Linked DNA regions of Homo sapiens. The protein of the gene in region 1 interacts with the protein of each later gene in a pairwise test. Each region holds a gene or a part of one and is shown in the gene's direction. Other genes may lie near its edges. The genes, in order: ZCCHC13 and ZNF250.

What was found.
Region 2: the proteins of ZCCHC13 (region 1) and ZNF250 interact in binary tests that used the Homo sapiens proteins (3 or more experiments, as listed by UniProt).

Annotation. Positions count from the first base shown.
Region 1 is NC_000023.11:74,301,908-74,305,772, forward strand, and holds ZCCHC13 (zinc finger CCHC domain-containing protein 13), read left to right. Parts: upstream 1-2,272; 5' UTR 2,273-2,359; coding exon 2,360-2,860; 3' UTR 2,861-3,127; downstream 3,128-3,865.
Region 2 is NC_000008.11:144,880,617-144,884,539, reverse strand, and holds part of ZNF250 (zinc finger protein 250), read left to right. Parts: intron 1-1,703; coding exon 1,704-3,025; 3' UTR 3,026-3,923. UniProt on the Homo sapiens protein: May be involved in transcriptional regulation.

The DNA of each region.
Region 1 (3,865 bases):
AGCTTCTTTAACCCAATAAAAAAGTATGTAGTTTTTTTTTTAATTAAAAAACCATGGTTAACATCATACTTAATGGTCAAAGACTGAGAGCTTTCCTCCTGAGATAAAGAACGAGACAGGAATGTCTGCTTTCACTATTTCTATTCAGCATTGTGCTGGAAGTTCTAGCTGGGGCAATTAGGCAAGAGCATGAAATAAAAGGCATCCAGATTAGAAAGGAAGAATATAAACTATCCTTACTTATAGATGACATAATCTTGTCTATAGAAAATCCTAAGGAATCCACTAAAAAACTACTGGAACTATTAAATCAGTTCAGCAAGGTTGCAAGATACAAGATCAACATACAGAAATAATTGTATTTCTATACAATAACAATAAACAATTGAAAAATGATAAGAAAATAATTCTATTTAAGATAACATCAAAAATGATGAAATACTTTAAAAATTTAACAAAAGATGTGCAAGACTTGTATACTGAAAACTACAAAATATCAGAGAATGAAAATAAAAGCCTAAATAAGTGAAACAATAACTTGTGCTCATGTATTTAATTATTCAATTTTTTTTTTTTTTTTTTTTTTGAGACAGAGTCTTTCTCTGTCACCCAGGCTGGAGTGCAGTGGCGCGATCTTGGCTCACTGCAACCTCCACCTCCCAAGTTCAAGCCATTCTCCTGCCTCAGTCTCTTGAGTAGCTGGGATTACAGGCATGCGCCACCATGCCTGGCCAATTTTTGTATTTTTAATAGTGGCAGGGTTTCACCATGTTGGTCAGGCTGGTCTTGAACTCCTGACCTCATGATCTGCCCACCTCGGCCTCCCAAAGTGCTGGGATTACAGGCGTGAGCCACCGCGCCCGGCCAGACTCAATATTTTTAAGATAACAATGGTCTCCAAAATGATCTACAGATTCCATAATCCATATCAAACACCCGTTTGCCTTTTTTTGCAGAAATTGACAAGCTGATCCTAAAATTCATATGAAAATGCAAGGAACTCAGAATAGTCACATCAAAAGAGCAAAGTTGGAGGCCTTACTCCTCCCAATTTCAAAGTATAATGCAAAGCTACAGTAATCAAGATTATGTGGTACTGGTATAAAGATAAACACACAGATATAGCTATTAAATAGTATTTAGGTAAATATATGAGAAACTAAAGAAATAAAGAATGACAATAACTAACTCCAGAGAACATAAAAACCATGCAGGTAATGAAGTGATCAGAGTACTCTCCAAATGGCTCAGGCATGAGTATCATTTACATACTTATAATTATAAAAACATTGAATATTGTCCCAACCAATATTAAGTGAAGGGAGGCATAGTTGGAATGAGGAGTTTGGACTGTGCAAGTGCATAGGGTGGGTGGTAAAAGAAGACTAAATGTTCATCCTCCAAAATGGAAAGACACAGATAATGTCTAAAATTGAAACATCAAAAAGTCATAGTAGCCAGCATATGATTGTGGTTCCAGCTACTCAGGAGGCTGATTGCTCAAGCCCAAGAGTTTGAGACCTGTCTGGGCAACATAGCAAGACTCCTCCTGTCTAAAATAAATAAATAAATAACTCGTAATATAAAGATATGTTTACACATATGCCTCTAAATAGTATGCTTCAAACTATGAGTTCCAATTATTTAGTGAATTAAGAAACCCAGGGGACAGAGCAAGATCATGGGATAGAAGTCGACACAATTTGTCCCCCTCACCTCCACTGGAACACCAAATTTTTTTTTTTTTTTTTTTTTTTTGAGACAGAGTTTCCCTCTGTCGCCCAGGTTGGAATGCAATGGCGCGATCTTGGCTCACTGCAACCTCTGCCTCCCTGGTTCAACTGCCTCAGCTGGGATTACAGGAGCCCGCCACCATGCCCGGCTAATTTTTGTATTTTTAGTAGAGACGGGGTTTCAACATGTTGGCCAGGATGGTCTCAATCTCTTGACCTCGTGATCCTCCCGCCTTGGCCTTCCCGAAGAGCTGGGATTACAGGCATGAGCCACCGCACCCGGCCGACTAAGTCTTAAATTATGAAAACTTCTACAAGTCTAATTTTCTAAATAGGAAAGGATTCAAACTCAATGATTCAAGTGTTGAAACAAACAAAAACGGAAAACAACACTACTCAGTTAACAGATTATTGTGCTTTTGGCTTCTTGAGTAGGAGGAAAGTCGGGCGGGAAGGGCGTCAGGAATGTCCGTGACACGTGAATGGGGCCGTGTGCAAACCTTGTATGACATCACTGAGACACCTAGCGGAAAACAGCTAATTCTTTCTAAGCCGCCCAAAGCGGGGTTGCGCCGGGGCCTCCGGGGCCGAGGTGGGCCTGCTCATTGGAAGATCGCATCGCAGCCATGAGCAGTAAGGATTTCTTCGCGTGTGGACACTCTGGCCATTGGGCTCGGGGATGCCCTAGAGGAGGAGCTGGAGGGCGAAGAGGTGGAGGCCATGGCAGAGGTTCTCAATGTGGTTCCACCACCCTATCTTACACCTGTTACTGCTGTGGTGAGTCCGGTCGTAATGCTAAGAACTGTGTCCTTCTCGGAAACATCTGCTACAACTGTGGGAGAAGCGGCCACATCGCCAAAGACTGTAAGGATCCTAAACGAGAGAGACGCCAACACTGTTATACCTGCGGCAGACTAGGACATCTGGCTCGTGACTGTGATCGTCAGAAAGAGCAGAAATGCTACTCTTGCGGCAAACTTGGGCACATTCAGAAAGACTGCGCCCAGGTCAAGTGTTACCGATGCGGCGAGATTGGCCACGTGGCCATCAATTGCAGCAAGGCGAGGCCAGGTCAACTGCTACCGCTGCGGCAAATCCCGACATCTAGCCAAGGAATGTCCCAGTGAGGTTACCACTTAAATCTTCCCCCCCACCCCCCACCCTTTTGCTGATTGATAATTGTATTATTTTCTCCGAAAACTTCACTCACCGAAAGGTCGATAGATTGAGGCTACTCTCAGGCAAGTGAGCTTTAATTACCATGTTAAAGGAGGAAAGAGCTAGAAAAAAAAACCTCAAAAAAGTTAATCATTGGTAGATGCCCCACAATTAACGTGTTGCTTCTGCCCCACGGGCAAATCTAGTTATTAAATAGTCATTCTGAGCACCAATCACTTAAGGGGTTCTTTTGTTGTATTTTGATTTAACACATTTAATTAAGAGGCACTATTGGAAGAGCTGGATCTAAATGGTGAACAAATTAGAACAAATTTAGAAACACAGGCCTAGAATCTATTAACAAGAAAAATAGTGTGTCAGATGAAGGTAAATTGCCATAGAGAGAAAGAACAGGAGGTAAAAGGATAAAAAGAGAATGTGTATGTGGGGGAAAGAGGGAAAGAATGTGGTTCTGTTTTAGATACACAAGGGCACCCTGAGGAGGTTATATTTCCTCAGAGATCCATAGGGCAAATAAAGCTGATTCTGAAAATCCATGACCTTGCCAAAGTAACTTAAATTTTATCATATTGATGGCTTTGAATTATCTGGCCTCATTAGGTTTTAAACAACATTGAACGAGACATCTCTGTCTGGCCCTGCATAGAGTGTGTAGTTTAATGAAAATAAACCAGAAACAAAATGTATAATGTATATGAGCTGCTTTGAGAGAGAGAGCAATCAGAAAAAAACAGAAACAAAAAATCTTAACAGGCCGGGCGCAGTGGCTTACACCTGTAATCCCAGCACTTTGGGAGGCCAGACCAGAAGGATCACTTGAGCCCAGGAGTTTGAGAGCAGCCTGGGCAACACAGTGAGCTTTTCTCTACAAAAAATACAAAATTAGCCGGGTGTGGTGGCGCATGCCTGTAGTCCCAGCTACTCTAGAGGCTTAGGCGGGATGATTGCTTGAG
Region 2 (3,923 bases), on another chromosome or scaffold:
TGGCTCCTGCCTGTAATCCCAGCACTTTGGGAGGCCGAGGTGGGTAGATCACGAAGTCAGGAGTTTGAGGCCATCCTGGCCAACATGGTGAAACCCTGTCTCTACTGAAGATACAAAAAAATTAGCCAGCCATGGTGGCATGTGCCTGTAATCCCAGCCACTGGGGAGGCTGAGGCAGGAGAATCACTTCAACCCGGGAGGCAGAGGTTGCAGTGAGCCGAGCTCGTCCCATTGCACTCCAGCCTGGGCGACAGGGTAAGACTCCGTCTCTAAAAAAAGAATTATGTTCATAAACAGAATAGACATAAATAAACTATGGTATTTTAACTTAATGGAATATACTGCAGTGAAAATGATTAACTGCTGTACAACAACATGATGGATCTCAAAAACATAATGCTGACGGGAAAACGAGTTCCAGAAGACTGTGCTCCATGAAACTATAGAAAGCTCAGAAACACGCATAACTAAGTAAAATAAAATATAATAATGTTTAGAGCCAGGCACAATGGCTCATGCCTGTACTCCCAGCACTTTGGGAGGCAAAGGCGGGAGGATCATATGAGCCCCAAGCAGCTTGAGGCTGCAGTGGGCTATGATAGTAGCCACTGTACTCCAGCTTGGGTGACAGAGACTCCATCTAAAAAAAAAATCACTGTTGTCCTCAGCACCTCTTACCTCCCACCCACTCACACACAATCAGCCTGCAGAGCGCTCGACCTGCTCCCAGAAGAGTCTCCACCCCTGCCTTTCCCGCCATCTATGCTTCTGCTCCTGAAGGCCTCATCTGTGGCCTAAACTTGGCAGCAGATTCCCATCATGCCCCTCTGCACCTTCAGTCTTGTCCTTCCCTCCCCTCCTCCTGCCACTGCATTCTCCACATGAAATTATCTTCCACATGGCCAGGTCCGATGGTTCACGCCTGTAATCCCAGCACTTTGGGAGGCCGAGGTGGGTGAATCACTTGAAGTCAAGAGTTCAAGACCAGTCTGGCCGACACGATAAAACCCCATCTCTACTAAAAATACAAAAATTAGCCAGGCATGATGGTGTGCGTCTGTAATCCCAGTTACTCAGGAGGCTGAGACACGAGAATCGCTTGACCCCAGGAGGTGGGGGTTGCAGTGAACCGAGATTGTGCCACTGCACTCCAGCCTGGATAACAGAGCAAGGCTCCTTCTCAAAAAAAAAAAAAAAGAAATTATTTTCCACAAAGAGGTGGCAGCACCACCACCCCTACCTCATGTACAAGTCTGTTGGCCTCCAGATGGCACACCCCGACTTGCTCACAATAGCTCACACCTCTCCCTGCCTGCCCAAGTGCTGCTGTCTGCCCCACAAGGCACCCACATTATGTGGGCCTGTATTTCAGCTCTGTCCACATGAGGACCCCTGGGAGGGCAGGACTCAGGCACCACTGGGCTGTTTCCCTGCTGTTCTGTGGACTCCACACAGGGGTGTGACCTCAAACTGGAGTTTACACCTTTCTCTTAAAGCTTGCCTTGGCACCTTCCTGTCTGGAAACATTATCTTCTGATATCTAGTTGTTTGACACAGTTATGGTGGTTCTGTTCTTCTGTAGCTCACACCAACGTGTGCATTGAGGGATTTTGCACCTTCATCAGCAAGGCCAGTTTCAGGGTTGCACTAGCTCTTCAGTTTTGAGTAGTGTTAACATTTTCATTTTGGATTTGTTCTTTCAGAATGTGAAACCAAGGGAGAGAGTCAAAATACAGACTTGAGTCCGAAGCCATTAATTTCAGAGCAAACAGTGATTCTGGGGAAAACACCCTTGGGGAGGATTGATCAAGAAAATAATGAAACAAAGCAAAGCTTCTGTCTGAGTCCAAACTCTGTTGACCACCGTGAAGTTCAGGTCTTAAGCCAAAGCATGCCACTCACTCCGCACCAGGCAGTGCCTAGTGGAGAGAGGCCCTACATGTGTGTTGAGTGTGGGAAGTGCTTTGGCCGGAGTTCCCACCTCCTTCAGCATCAGCGTATCCACACTGGAGAGAAGCCCTATGTGTGCAGTGTATGTGGGAAGGCCTTCAGCCAGAGCTCAGTCCTTAGTAAACACAGGAGAATTCACACAGGTGAGAAGCCCTATGAGTGTAATGAGTGTGGAAAAGCCTTTAGAGTGAGCTCAGATCTTGCTCAGCATCACAAGATACATACAGGAGAGAAGCCTCACGAATGTCTTGAGTGTCGGAAAGCCTTCACTCAACTCTCACATCTCATTCAGCACCAGCGGATCCACACGGGAGAAAGGCCATATGTGTGTCCGTTGTGTGGGAAAGCCTTCAACCATAGCACTGTTCTGCGGAGCCACCAGAGGGTACACACTGGGGAGAAGCCTCACAGGTGCAATGAGTGTGGGAAAACCTTCAGTGTGAAGAGGACACTGCTGCAGCACCAGAGGATCCACACCGGGGAGAAGCCCTACACGTGCAGCGAGTGTGGGAAGGCCTTCAGCGACCGCTCAGTCCTCATTCAGCACCACAACGTGCACACCGGGGAGAAGCCCTATGAGTGCAGTGAGTGTGGGAAGACCTTCAGCCACCGCTCCACACTGATGAATCACGAGCGGATCCACACCGAGGAAAAGCCCTATGCATGCTACGAATGTGGGAAGGCCTTCGTTCAGCACTCACACCTGATCCAGCACCAGAGAGTCCACACTGGGGAGAAGCCCTATGTGTGTGGTGAATGTGGGCACGCCTTCAGTGCACGCCGGTCTCTGATCCAGCATGAGAGAATCCACACAGGTGAAAAGCCCTTCCAGTGCACAGAATGTGGCAAAGCCTTCAGCCTGAAAGCAACTCTGATTGTGCACCTGAGGACCCACACGGGCGAGAAGCCATATGAGTGCAATAGCTGCGGGAAGGCCTTCAGCCAGTACTCAGTGCTCATCCAGCACCAGCGGATCCACACAGGCGAGAAGCCCTATGAGTGCGGGGAGTGTGGGCGTGCCTTCAACCAGCATGGCCACCTAATCCAGCACCAGAAAGTGCACAGAAAGTTGTGACCCATGGCTGACACAAGAATCCATTCTCACAGAAACTGCATGTGGAACCACAAGCAGCCTTCAGCCCAAGAGAAGTCTCTGTTAACTCTATAGGAAGCTTTTCTTTGGCGATTCAGTGTCACAAAATAACTCCAGAAAGAAGCACTTAGCGTGCTGTTCCTGTGGAAAAACTTCAGAGACTACCTGTTTTATTTTCCTCAACATCTTGAAGTTATGTTGGAGAGTAATCATACAATTGTAGAGAATTTTGGTAAAAAACAGCCATAATTCTTTAACATTAGTTTATTTGAACTAAGGGAATTTAAGGCATAAGAACCATTATCCCAATAAAATCTTACATTCCAAATAAAGTTCTTTTTCTAAGAACATTACATGCCCTTCCTAAATATCAATTAACCATACTAATTATTGCACTTAAAATTTGAAAGTCGGACTATTTTCAGTATTCTCTTAAAAGACTAAAGTATTGTATGGATAAAGTGATATAAAAAGATATTTTCATCAAGCATCATGTAAAATGGTTGGAAATCCTAAGTGTGTGGATTTCCATCCTAAGTGTGTGGAGTCCTGTTTTGTATGAAACAAGGAAAAAGCTTATATATTAGTGAGAAATTACATAAATTTAAAAAACTTTTTGTATGTGTGTGTGGAGATAGTCTTGCTCTGTTGCCCAAGCTGCAGTGCAGTGGCATGATCTTGGCTCACTGCAGTCTCCGCCCCCACCCCAGGTTCAAGCTTTTCTTGTGCCTCAGTCTCCCAAGTAACTAGGATTATAGATATGCGCCACCACACCTGGCTAATTTTTGTATTTTTAGTAGAGACGGAGTTTCACCGTGTTGGCCAGGCTGGTCTCGAACTCCTGGCCTCAAGTGATCCTCCCACCTTTGCTTCCGAAAGT